Linked DNA regions of Homo sapiens: region 1 is linked to region 2. A link means that fine-mapping ties the variant in region 2 to the expression of a gene that starts in the linked region. Tissue or cell type: whole blood. Region 2 holds a variant in brackets; the other region holds the start of a gene. All regions are shown on one strand. Distances are from middle to middle. Region 1 holds the start of EXOC3 (exocyst complex component 3). Region 2 overlaps SLC9A3 (solute carrier family 9 member A3).

Region 1 (5,363 bases), 45 kb after region 2:
CTCTGTGCACTGCAGGAGTTGTTAGGACGGTAGAAATGTTAGGTACAAAACCTCCCCCAAACTATCAGGTGATCACAGTGGAGCTACAAGCAGAGCCTCTGAGATCATTAATCCAGGAAACCTCAAAGAAAGCTGAACTAGGATGAGGAACTCCTTGATAAGATAAACAAACCTTCGTAACACAAACATGCAGAAGTTATACCTTTAAGGGGAGAGCAGGGGCGTTTCACAGGCATGAGAGACATGGACATTGCGAAGATTCTAGATGTGGGTCCCAGACCACCCAGCATGTAGATGTCAGCCTCAAAGGCACATCTCTCCCCAAGACAGGGCTGGTTTCTCATTTCGGGAGCTTTCCCCCAGCACCTTGGCCAGGCCTGTGGGCAGCTGCACCAGGACCCTCAGTGAAGACAAATACAGCGTGGACAACTCCCCCGACCAGGTACCACAGCTGGAGGCCCAGCACAAGCCCCACAATTCCCACCCTATAAAAGTGACAATAGTCAGCCAGGCCCGGTGGCTCACGCCTGTAATCCCAGCACTTTGGCAGGCCGAGGCGGGTGGATCACGAGGTCAGGAGATCGAGACCATCCTGGCTAACATGGTGAAACCCTGTATCTACTAAAAATACACACAAAAAAATTAGCTGGGCATGTTGGTGGGTGCCTGTAGTCCCAGCTACTCGGGAGGCTGAGGCAGGAGACTGGCGTGAACCCCGGAGGCGGAGCTTGCAGTCAGCCGAGATCGCGCCACTGCACTCCAGCCTGGGCGACAGAGCGAGACTCCGTCTCAAAAAAAAAAAAAAGAAAAAAAAAGAAAAAGTCATTATTGTCTTGGGTATCCAAAACCCCATTTCCCCCTTTTTTAACTGTCCTAGAAAACATCATGCTTCCCTCCTTTATGCAGGCCCCGTGCAGACCACAGGTGCTCAGATGCCAGGCAAGCCTGCCTTCCATGCTCCCTCCACCATCGTCCTCCTCGGGGAGCTAACACAGCTGCTTGGTGAGCATCAGTCAATGAGGGAATCCGATACACCTGTTCCCCTTGACTTCAGCTGTCTGATTTTCATCTTCATGAATATTAAAAAGATTCACCTTCTCCTGGAATTTTTCATTCTCCATGCCCACATGCTTTCAGACACCTCTCTTCTCCTTTTTCATCTGGACCTACATTGCAACCTTTCCTTTCTCTTTATTTTCTGATTATGAAATTTGGCATACCAACGTAGAAAATCTGGACAGGACAAAAATACAAAGATGCCAGAGGCAACTCCCCTTAAATCCCATCATCTATGGGCAACTCCTCTTAAATCTTGCTACCCAGGGGCAACTTCCCTTAAATCTCACAATCCAGGGACAACTTCCCGTAAATCCCACCACTCAGGGGTAACCCCCGCTATATCCCACCACTCAGGGGCAACTCCCCTTAAATCCCGCCACCCAGGGACAACTCCCCTTAAATCCCGACACTCAGGGGCAACTCCCTCCAACAGGGCTTGTTTCCTTCCAGTTTTTTCCCTTTGAGTTTCTTTTAAAGCTAAGATTCCACTGCTTATATGACTTTGTAGGTGCACACTTTTGTTTTCTTATTTTGTTTGGACATTATCATCAGCATTTCCATTGACATTAAAGCCTGTATGATTTTGATTATAGGGCTGGATAATAACCCAAGAAGTGGACCCCCAGCCGCTCTGCTGGGGCACGCGGTGAGGTGGCTGCGCCCATCTTAAGGCTGGAGTGAAGTCTGTCACGCTGTGGGTGGAAGCCAAGGCAATGTGAGTGGAGAGCTGTGAAGCAGGGCTCGCCTTGGAGTCAGAATAAAGCTACTCATGTGGAAAAGGGGAAAATCTGGAGTTAAAAAACGCACCGCAGAGGCTTCCATCCCAGCCTGAAGACTAAAGATTTTGGGTCACAGAAGCCAAAGAGGAACTCAGAGACCATAAACAGAGACCCAGGTCCAGCCCCTACCAGGGCCTTTCTGACTGCCTTCCCCTGGCGCTGGCTCCGCTGTGAGCCTCTCCGCCGAGCGGGGGGACACCCTACTGCGGGGAACATCAGCACCCACGGAGACACCTGCGCCAGGGAGACACCTCTGCCGGGCAGACACCTCTGCCAGGAGGGACCCTTTACCGGGGGGACGCCTGCGCCGAGGGGAACACCTGTGCTGGGAGGCACCTCACGGAGGGGACACTCCGCTGGAGGACACCTGCACCTTGGAGGACACCTGCACCTTGAAAGCTTCCTAAAGGCCAGGAAGGACGCTTGTGCCCAGAAGGACACCTGCTCCGACGAGGGACACCTGGTCCGAGGGGGGACACCTGTGCCAGGAAGGACAACTGCGCCTGGGGGGGGACACCGTCAAGAGGACACCTGCACCAGGAAGTACACTTGTGCCTGGGAGGGACACCTGTGCTTGAGGGGACACTTGCACCTTGGAGAACTCCTGCGCCGAGGGGACACCTGCGCCAGGAAGGACACTTGTGCCTGGAGGGACATCTGCCCCAAGGAGGGACACCTGCTCCGAGGGGGGACACCTGTGCCAGGAAGGACACCAGCGCCTGGGGCGTGGGGGAAGACACTGTTAAGGGGACACCTGCACCAGGAAGGACCTTGTGCCTGTGGGGACACATGTGCCAAGGGGACACCTACGCCTGGGGGGGACACATGTGCCGGGGAGGACACCTGCGCCGAGGACACTCGCACGAGCGGGATACTCCACGGGGTCCGGAACGGCCTCCCCGCCCTCCAGGTCCCGGTCCGGCCTCCCCCTACGCGCCCCCGCGGAAGCCAGAGACAGGGAGAGCAAGGATGAAAGACGGCGACCACCTCCCAAGGACCCGCCGGCCGTCAGGACCTGCCACCGACTCACCCTCTACGGCTACGCCGCCGCCGCCGCCGCCGCCGCCGCCGCCGCCGCCGCCGCCGCCGCCCCCGCCGCCCCCTCCGCCTTCGCTGCCTCCGCCTCCGGGGTCCCGGCCGGAAGTGGACAGCGCGCGGGCACTTCCGCTTCCGGCAACGGCGCCGGAAGCACGGGTCCGGGCCCTCCCGCGGGGCGGGTACTCGTCTCCCGGCCGAGCGACTTCAGCTCGGGGACCTGCCCCATGGCCGCTCCCCAGCAGGACAGGGAAACCGCCGAGGTGGGGGGCTTCTTGTCCGTCCCAGCCCCCCCAACTCAGGCCCTCTCGCTGCCCCTGGCGACCACCGCGTGCGCCCTTCCCCAGGGCGGGCGCAGTCCTGGACGCCTCCGCCGAGCGTGACTGCGTGCATTTTCTCTCCTTTCCCTTCCCAACCTGCGGAGAGAAGACAGCCCCAGAGCCGCTGTCTCCATCCTCTGCTGATGCCTGCTGTCTTTATGTTGGCCTCGTCGTCCGCACTGCAGTGTGGCAGGGGCGTCCCTCGTTTCCCGCGGACTGAGGTGGGCGCCGGGCATTCAGTAAACGAAGAAACCAAAGCGGAGAAGGTTGGGAATCAAACGTCTGTCATACCTGCCACCAGCAGACAAGCGGCTTTGGGTACCTCCTGGACCCAAAGACGAACTCAGCCCCTCCAGGAGCGCAGTCATTGGCACCCTCGTGGGAACAATGCCAGTGGGATGGGTGGCCACCGGATGTTTCCGGGGCCCCTCAGAGGCCCAGCAGCGCAGGTCTTGGAGAATGAATGTGGGTCACTGGGCCGCGCTGCAGAGGGCCGGTCCTGAGTCGCTTCCTGGAGGAGAGGCCCATGGCCAGCACTTGGCTTCGCCTGGAGGAAGAAGCACGTGCTAAACCACGAGCGTTCAGGGTTTGTCTGTTTGATAAAAGATGCTGGCTTTGACACACCAACTGACAAAGTCTTTCATAGGTTGGAGCTGCTAGGTTGTGCCCCTGCCCCTCCTGAAAATTAGCCACACGAAAGGAAGGGTCTGGAAGGTGGCAGGGAAGCCAGCAGAGACCAGGGAAGTGGCAGCAGCATGGGGCAGGGGCACACAGGAAGGAGATGGAGCTTGCGGGAGCCCCCACTGCCACTCCGACAGGGAGCCCTGCCCCGTGCCCTGCTGATGTTGACACTGACCCCGGCTCTATTATTTCAGTTTTTCCTTGTAATTTCTGAAAATCTAGCAACAAGTTGAGCAATGAAAAAAAGTAAAAAAGTTAAAATTGTGTTAGAAATTATGACTGTAAAGAAATTTTGAAACTAATGAAGAAAAAATTGCCAAAATTGCCAAAGCTTTTAGGACTCTTAAAAATATAGTAACATTGAGTATTATGAACTAAAGACTCATACTATTATATCAGTGTCTGGTAGTGAATTTGGATGGAGGACTGTCTAGTAACTTCTTAACAAAACATTGATTAGAAGTCTTTCTTGGCGGGGCGCCGTGGCTCACGCCTGTAATCCCAGCACTTTGGGAGGCGAGGCAGGTAGATCATGAGGTCAGGAGATCGAGACCATCCTGGCTAACATGGTGAAACCCCGTCTCTACTAAAAAAAATACAAAAAAACTAGGCAGGTGTGGTGGTGGGCCCCTGGAGTCCCAGCTACTCGGGAGGCTGAGGCAGGAGAATGGCGTGAACCCGGGAGGCGGAGCTTGCAGTGAGCCAAGATCGCGCCACTGTACTCCAGCCTGGGCAACAGAGCGAGGCTCCGTCTCAAAAAAAAAAAAAAAAAAAAAAAAAAAAAAAAGGTATTTATTGGCTGGGCGCAGTGGCTCCTAACTGTAATCCCAGCACTTTGGGAGGCTGAGATGGGCAGACCCCTTGAGCCCAGGAGTTTGAGACCAGCCTGGGCAACATGGTCTTTTTGGTAGGAACCCCATCTCTACCAAAAAAAACCCCACAAAAATTAGCCAGGCATGGTGGTGCATGCCTGTAATCTCAGCTCCCTGGGAGGCTGAGGCAGGAGAATGGCTTCAACCCGGGAGGAGGAGGTTGCAGTGAACTGAGATGGCACCACTACACTCCAGCCTGGGTGACAGAGGGAGAATCTGTCTCAAAAAAAAAAGTTTCTTGACTTCTGTTTTTGGCAGACCATGTTCTGCGAACACCCAGGAGCACTGCTGAGTGCAAGCATCATGTCGATTGCACAAGTGGATTCACGAACAGGCAAGGACGTGACCAGGGACAAATGTGGGAAGGGGAGAGGACGTGAATCAGAAGCAGAGATGCTTGCCGTCCTACAGCAGGCAGGTGGGTGGGTAGGGTGCGAGTTCTGCGGCCCAGGGGTTGGGTTTTACACTGAAGCAGGACAGATGATGAAGCTAAGGCTCCCAGCAGGTGGGAGGTGGACGGCGACTCCCATGTGAAGCACAGATGTGCAAGGGATGCATCCTCAGTGAAAGCGTGGACTAGGAAAACAGCAACAGCCTGGAGACTGTTCCTAAACTCA
Region 2 (5,363 bases):
ACAGACAGGCTCATGGATGGCAGGCCCGTCACGTGGGCGATGCCATAGGTGGTCAGGACACACCTCGGATGGGGCAGCCGCCCTAGCCACCGCACCCAAGGGAAAGCCTCAGGGGTTGTAGCAGAGACTCCTGGACCCGCGGCCCCTCGAGGCTCACACCTACCTTGCCAGATGGCCCCTCGCCCATGAGATCCCAGCTTCCTCCCAGCTGTGTCGAGTGTGGGATGGAGTAGCCTGTGATCAGTCTGGCCGTCAGGGCCGCTCCTTTGAGAGCCGGGCACACTCCGTGGCTCTGTGGCCACGTCACAATGGTCCCCGCCTAGCATTGGCCAGAGACACTGCCGGATTTCCCTTGCACGAAGCAGAATGTCCTCGGTGCAACTGGCCGAGCCTGGAGGACGTCCTTGCTGCACCTGCACCATGAAGCCCTGGAGGACTCCCCACACCAGGACGTCACCCCTGGCCCTCCCCTGCCCCTCGCCACGCTGCACTCCACCCCTGCCCCTCGCCACGCTGGACTCTACCGTCCTCCAACAACGCTCCTCATGAGAAACACGTGTCCCAGGTATCGCTGTGCCCCCTGGGGCAGGCCGCTCCCCAGGTGACACGGATGCTGGAGGCCTGCGCTCAGCCTTGGGGCCCAGCTGGTCAAAGCTGGGTGCTGCCTGAGGTTCTGGAACAGAGATGCCCATGGCCGGCAGGTCCATCCCATTCCTGGGAGTCCAAGAGAGCTGGGAGGCTGCAACTGATCTCTGCAGACCAGAGGCCAAGCCCTGTGGAGCGTCTCAAGGCCAAACGTGCCCCATGGGAAAGGGTCGACATGGCAGTGCTGGCCCGGGGGCTGTCCGGGCAGTGTGGGGACAGGCCCTGCGAGAGCTTCAGGCATCAGAGGCCCTTGCACAGGCAAAGCACGTGGTGGAGAAAGGCCTGGAACATGCGGTCTGGTGGCATGAGCCCTCCTGGCACGGCCGTGGGCAACTGTCCAGACGGGAAGGCTGCCGGCCGGGGAGTCTGAACGCGGCCGACCCCAGGACATCCATGGGGGCCATCACTGCCCTGGGGGCGGCCGTGCCAGGAGGCCGCGTTTAAAGATGACCTTGAAGGGGATTCGTGTCCTGAGGCCTGAGTTTGGAAGAGGAGAAGGCTTGTGTGGTTCCCGTTCCAACATGGAACTTTAACTCCCTGAACGCTGGTTCTTCTGGCATCTGTCACTTCCTCGGGGTGTTGTGACACTGGCCAGAGGCTGCTGGGGCTTAGGAGCTCACAGCAAACTCGGGGTTTAGTCACCGCAGAGATGACCCTGATCTGTCCCCTCCCAGGCGCCAGCACAGAAACCCCTGGCCAGGCTGCTCTCTGCTGTCTCCTGGGGCCCGTCCGGCTCCAGGGACAAACCCCTCCTCAGCCCGAGCCTCAGCCCAGAGGGGTGGTGGGCTCCGCTCCAGCCCAGCAGAGAGGCAGCAGCTGTGCGGGGGGACTCGTCGGGGGCCTCCCCCTCCCTGGGTGGTCTCTCCCACACCCTCACGGCCCTGGCGTCTCCTGGTCCCTGGACCCTCACGGCCGGGAAGGCAGCAAGGAGGCCCAGTGTCCTCTGAGCCCTGCGGCCGTGAGAGAGGGCAGACTCTCGGGGCCACGTGGCCACACTCAGTTCCCTGAGGGTCCCCTGGAGCCTGGCACCCCCACGTGGCCTCCTCGAGGCCTGAACCCTGGGTTGAATGGCAAAGACTTGTGAAGGATAAGGCTGCATTTCAGTAAAACCTCCCCAGCGAGGGGCACCAGAGCCCACAGGCAGATGCGGGGAGGGAAGCCGGCCGGGAGCTAGGGACCACATGGACCCACGTCTTCCGGGCCCCCTTGCTCCCACCGCAGCCCTGCTCATCCCCACAATCTGCCCCCACACCCCCAACGGCCCTCCCACCTGCCCCTCCCTGGCCGCGCCCCTGGGTGCTGTGTGTCCCGGCTCCGGGCCCGTCCTGGGTCAGCCCCACTTGCTTCTCCTGGGCTGGGACGCCACTCCAGGCGATGGGCCCCCATCCCTCCCCAGCATGCGGTGCCCCTGCACCCACCTGCCTCCGTTCACCCAAAGATGAAGGAGAGGGCCAGGGCCAGGGTCAGTCTGTCTGTCTGTCTTGCTCAGATGGGGTGGCCCCCTCGGAAGACAGCAGCCTTCCCTGGAGGGGGCTGGGGGTCTGTGGGAGGGACGCAGGAAGCTGACCCAGCTCCCCACGCCACCGGCGCCAGCCAGACGGGCTCCGAACCCCGACCCGTAGGCGAGCGCCTCCCCAGGGCCCTCCTCCTCGGGTGGCAGGCCCTGCAGCTGCCCCGCGGCCCGGCTTGTCTTCCAGGCGACCTGCAGATTGGGCTGCTGGACTTCCTCCTGTTTGGCAGCCTCATGGCGGCTGTGGACCCGGTGGCCGTCCTGGCCGTGTTTGAGGAGGTCCATGTCAACGAGGTCCTGTTCATCATCGTCTTCGGGGAGTCGCTGCTGAACGACGCAGTCACCGTGGTGAGCAACGGAGCCACCGCTCCAGAGCGGGCGAGCCGTGGGAGGCCTGGGCCCCGTCTCACCCCCCATCGGTCAGTCAGCAAAGGAGGGCGTGAAACCCTGTCCTCAAACTCCCCTCCCGGGGGCGTCCCG[T/C]CCCTCCACCTCCTTCCTCCCAGCTCAGAACGACTGGCAGCTTTCGCGAGGCTTCTTTGTATCTTCCACAGTTCCCAGGCCCTGCCCGCCCACTCCATAGCTTCAGGGTTAATGATGGCGCTGTTGAAATCCCGCCCTCCTGGTCCCCAGAGCGTCTGTGACTTTGGACCCACAGTTACTGCCACCCATTCCTGAGTTCCTAAAAAATACATGAGTGGCCGGGTGCGGTGGCTCACGCCTGTAATCCCAGCACTTTGGGAGGCCGAGGCAGGTGGATCACCTGAGGTCAGCAGTTCGAGACCAGCCTGGCCAACATGGTGAAACCCCGTCTCTACTAAAAATACAAAAATTAGCCAGGGGTGGTGGCACGCGCCTGTAATCCCAGCTACTGGGGAGGCTGAGACAGGAGAATCACCTGAAACCAGGAGGCAGAGGTTGCAATGAGCCGAGATCGTGCCATCGCACTCCAGCCTGGGTGACAGAGTGAGACTCCATCTCAAATAAAATAAATACGTGAATAGCAAACAACAAAATCCCATAGGAACCACGTAATCTGCCAGGGCCGCCATGACAAAGTACCGCAGGTGCAGTGCCTTGAACGACGGTGGGTGTCAGTGTGGTGGGTGTCAGTGTGGTGGGTGTCAGTGCGGTGGGTGTCAGTGCGGTCTGGATCACGGTGTCAGTGTGGTGGGTGTCAGTGCGGTGGGTGTCAGTGTGGTGGGTGTCAGTGCGGTCTGGATCACGGTGTCAGTGTGGTGGGTGTCAGTGCGGTGGGTGTCAGTGTGGTGGGTGTCAGTGCGGTCTGGATCACGGTGTCAGTGTGGTGGGTGTCAGTGCGGTGGGTGTCAGTGTGGTGGGTGTCAGTGCGGTCTGGATCACGGTGTCAGTGTGGTGGGTGTCAGTGCGGTGGGTGTCAGTGTGGTGGGTGTCAGTGCGGTCTGGATCACGGTGTCAGTGTGGTGGGTGTCAGTGCGGTGGGTGTCAGTGTGGTGGGTGTCAGTGCGGTCTGGATCACGGTGTCAGTGTGGTGGGTGTCAGTGCGGTGGGTGTCAGTGTGGTGGGTGTCAGTGCGGTCTGGATCACGGTGTCAGTGTGGTGGGTGTCAGTGCGGTGGGTGTCAGTGTGGTGGGTGTCAGTGCGGTGGGTGTCAGTGTGGTGGGTGTCAGTGCGGTCTGGATCACGGTGTCAGTGCGGTGGGTGTCAGTGCGGTCTGGATCACGGTGTCAGTGTGGTGGGTGTCAGTGCGGTGGGTGTCAGTGTGGTGGGTGTCAGTGCGGTCTGGATCACGGTGTCAGTGCGGTGGGTGTCAGTGCGGTCTGGATCACGGTGTCAGTGTGGTGGGCTCCTGCGGGACCCCGGTCCTGGACTTGCAGACGGTGCCTTCCCGTGTCCTCACGTGGCCGTCCCTGCGTGAATGTGCCCGAGTCGCCTCCTCTCACAGGGACACGGGTCCTATTGGATCAGGGTCCACCCCGGTGACCTGACTGTGCCATACTCCCCTTTTTCACGCTCACATGCCCAGGTCCTGGGGACTTTAACATGGGAATTTCGGGGGCACAATTTGGCCCATGACAGAGGTGAAGGGAGGGAAACTGAACTGGTGCTAACGGCAGAGCCCGGACGGTGTGTGGGTGTCCCTGGAGGAGATGGTGTTCCGGGAGGCGGGGACGGTGCCTCCACAGAGGCCCAAAGGCCACATCAGCGCTCAGTAAGGCCAGGAGAAGATTCAGGAACCCCAAGGAACATGGTTACTACTTCACAGTGACAATCGTGACGTTTCAAAGCCAATCCCATCAAATGGGGCCACTGCCTCCCGGAAGTGAGTCATGGGGCCATCCGAGGGGCACGTGCAGAGTGGCCCTCCTAGGAACCGTCAGTGAGGCCAGCCCTGGGCCCGGCCCCGACACCATCCCAGCCCCCACACTGCCCCCGCCCCGTGCTGCCCCTGCCCATCCTCCCCCAGCCCCGAGGACCCTGCAGACGCAGCCGGAGGGAAGGGTGGGGTCAGCTTCCTCTCCCCTCTGAAAGTGCCTGTGGTTTGAAAGGTTTGAAACCCGTCAGCCTCTCATGTTCCCTTAGGGGTTTTGGAAAGAGGAAAGTCCTGTGGGTGTCGCACACCAGACGGCAAGATATTCTCGGGGGAATTTGGGAAGTGAGACTTAATCGGGAATAGAGTGACAGCCCCGTGTGCCCCGCAGCCCTGCGGCTCCCGTCCCTGGAGAAGCAAGAGTCTCCCAAGAGGTTGTCTTCCCTCCCAGCTGGATTTTCATTAAAAAGCCCAGCTCCGAGAAGGCCCCAAGAGACCCCGGGACCCTCATGGGCCCCCCACCCCAGCCTGCATTTGCAAACCCAACTTACACGCCTGCCCCAGGGTCCTCTCCCACCTTGGCCAGAGCCAGAGACACAGAGCTGGGTGCAGAGCCAGGTTCTCCCCAGGGGCCTCGGCCCACCCAGGACGGCCCTCGGCCGGTCTCACCTGCGTCACCACTTTGCTGGGCGTGGAGCCCAGGGCGTGGATAAGGTTTCCCCGCATTTTATCTCTGGGTTTTGCCGGGCTAAGGTTTAAAAACATGCAAAGACGGCAGGGGCTAGAGCCAGCACAGCAGGGAAGTCACTCAAACTGACACCCTGGGTTTGTCTCCGTAGATGAGACTCAGAATTCAAGTGGCAGGGAGCTTTGCAGCTGCCCCTGTTTTGCAGAGGATAGGAAGAGGCCAGCTTTGCTCCC

The links.
Region 1: it holds the start of EXOC3, and the variant in region 2 is fine-mapped to the expression of EXOC3 in whole blood (INTERVAL, PIP 0.94).

The regions. Positions count from the first base shown.
Region 1 is chr5:440,796-446,158 of GRCh38, reverse strand. EXOC3 (exocyst complex component 3) reads right to left here and starts at 2,983. Exons shown (of 13, transcript NM_007277.5): 1 at 2,869-2,983; 2 at 1-9. It overlaps EXOC3-AS1 (EXOC3 antisense RNA 1), which reads left to right and starts at 2,999. Exons shown (of 1, transcript NR_126522.1): 1 at 2,999-4,324. RefSeq lists enhancers at 2,319-2,408, 2,459-2,588, 3,359-3,468, 3,489-3,538, 5,122-5,181 and 1 more and a silencer at 2,889-3,278.
Region 2 is chr5:485,456-490,818 of GRCh38, reverse strand. SLC9A3 (solute carrier family 9 member A3) reads left to right here. Exons shown (of 17, transcript NM_004174.4): 3 at 2,343-2,503. Among named protein-coding and RNA genes, the nearest start is that of SLC9A3-AS1, 15 kb to the right of the region's middle. The variant T/C (reference allele first, on the strand shown) is at 2,636.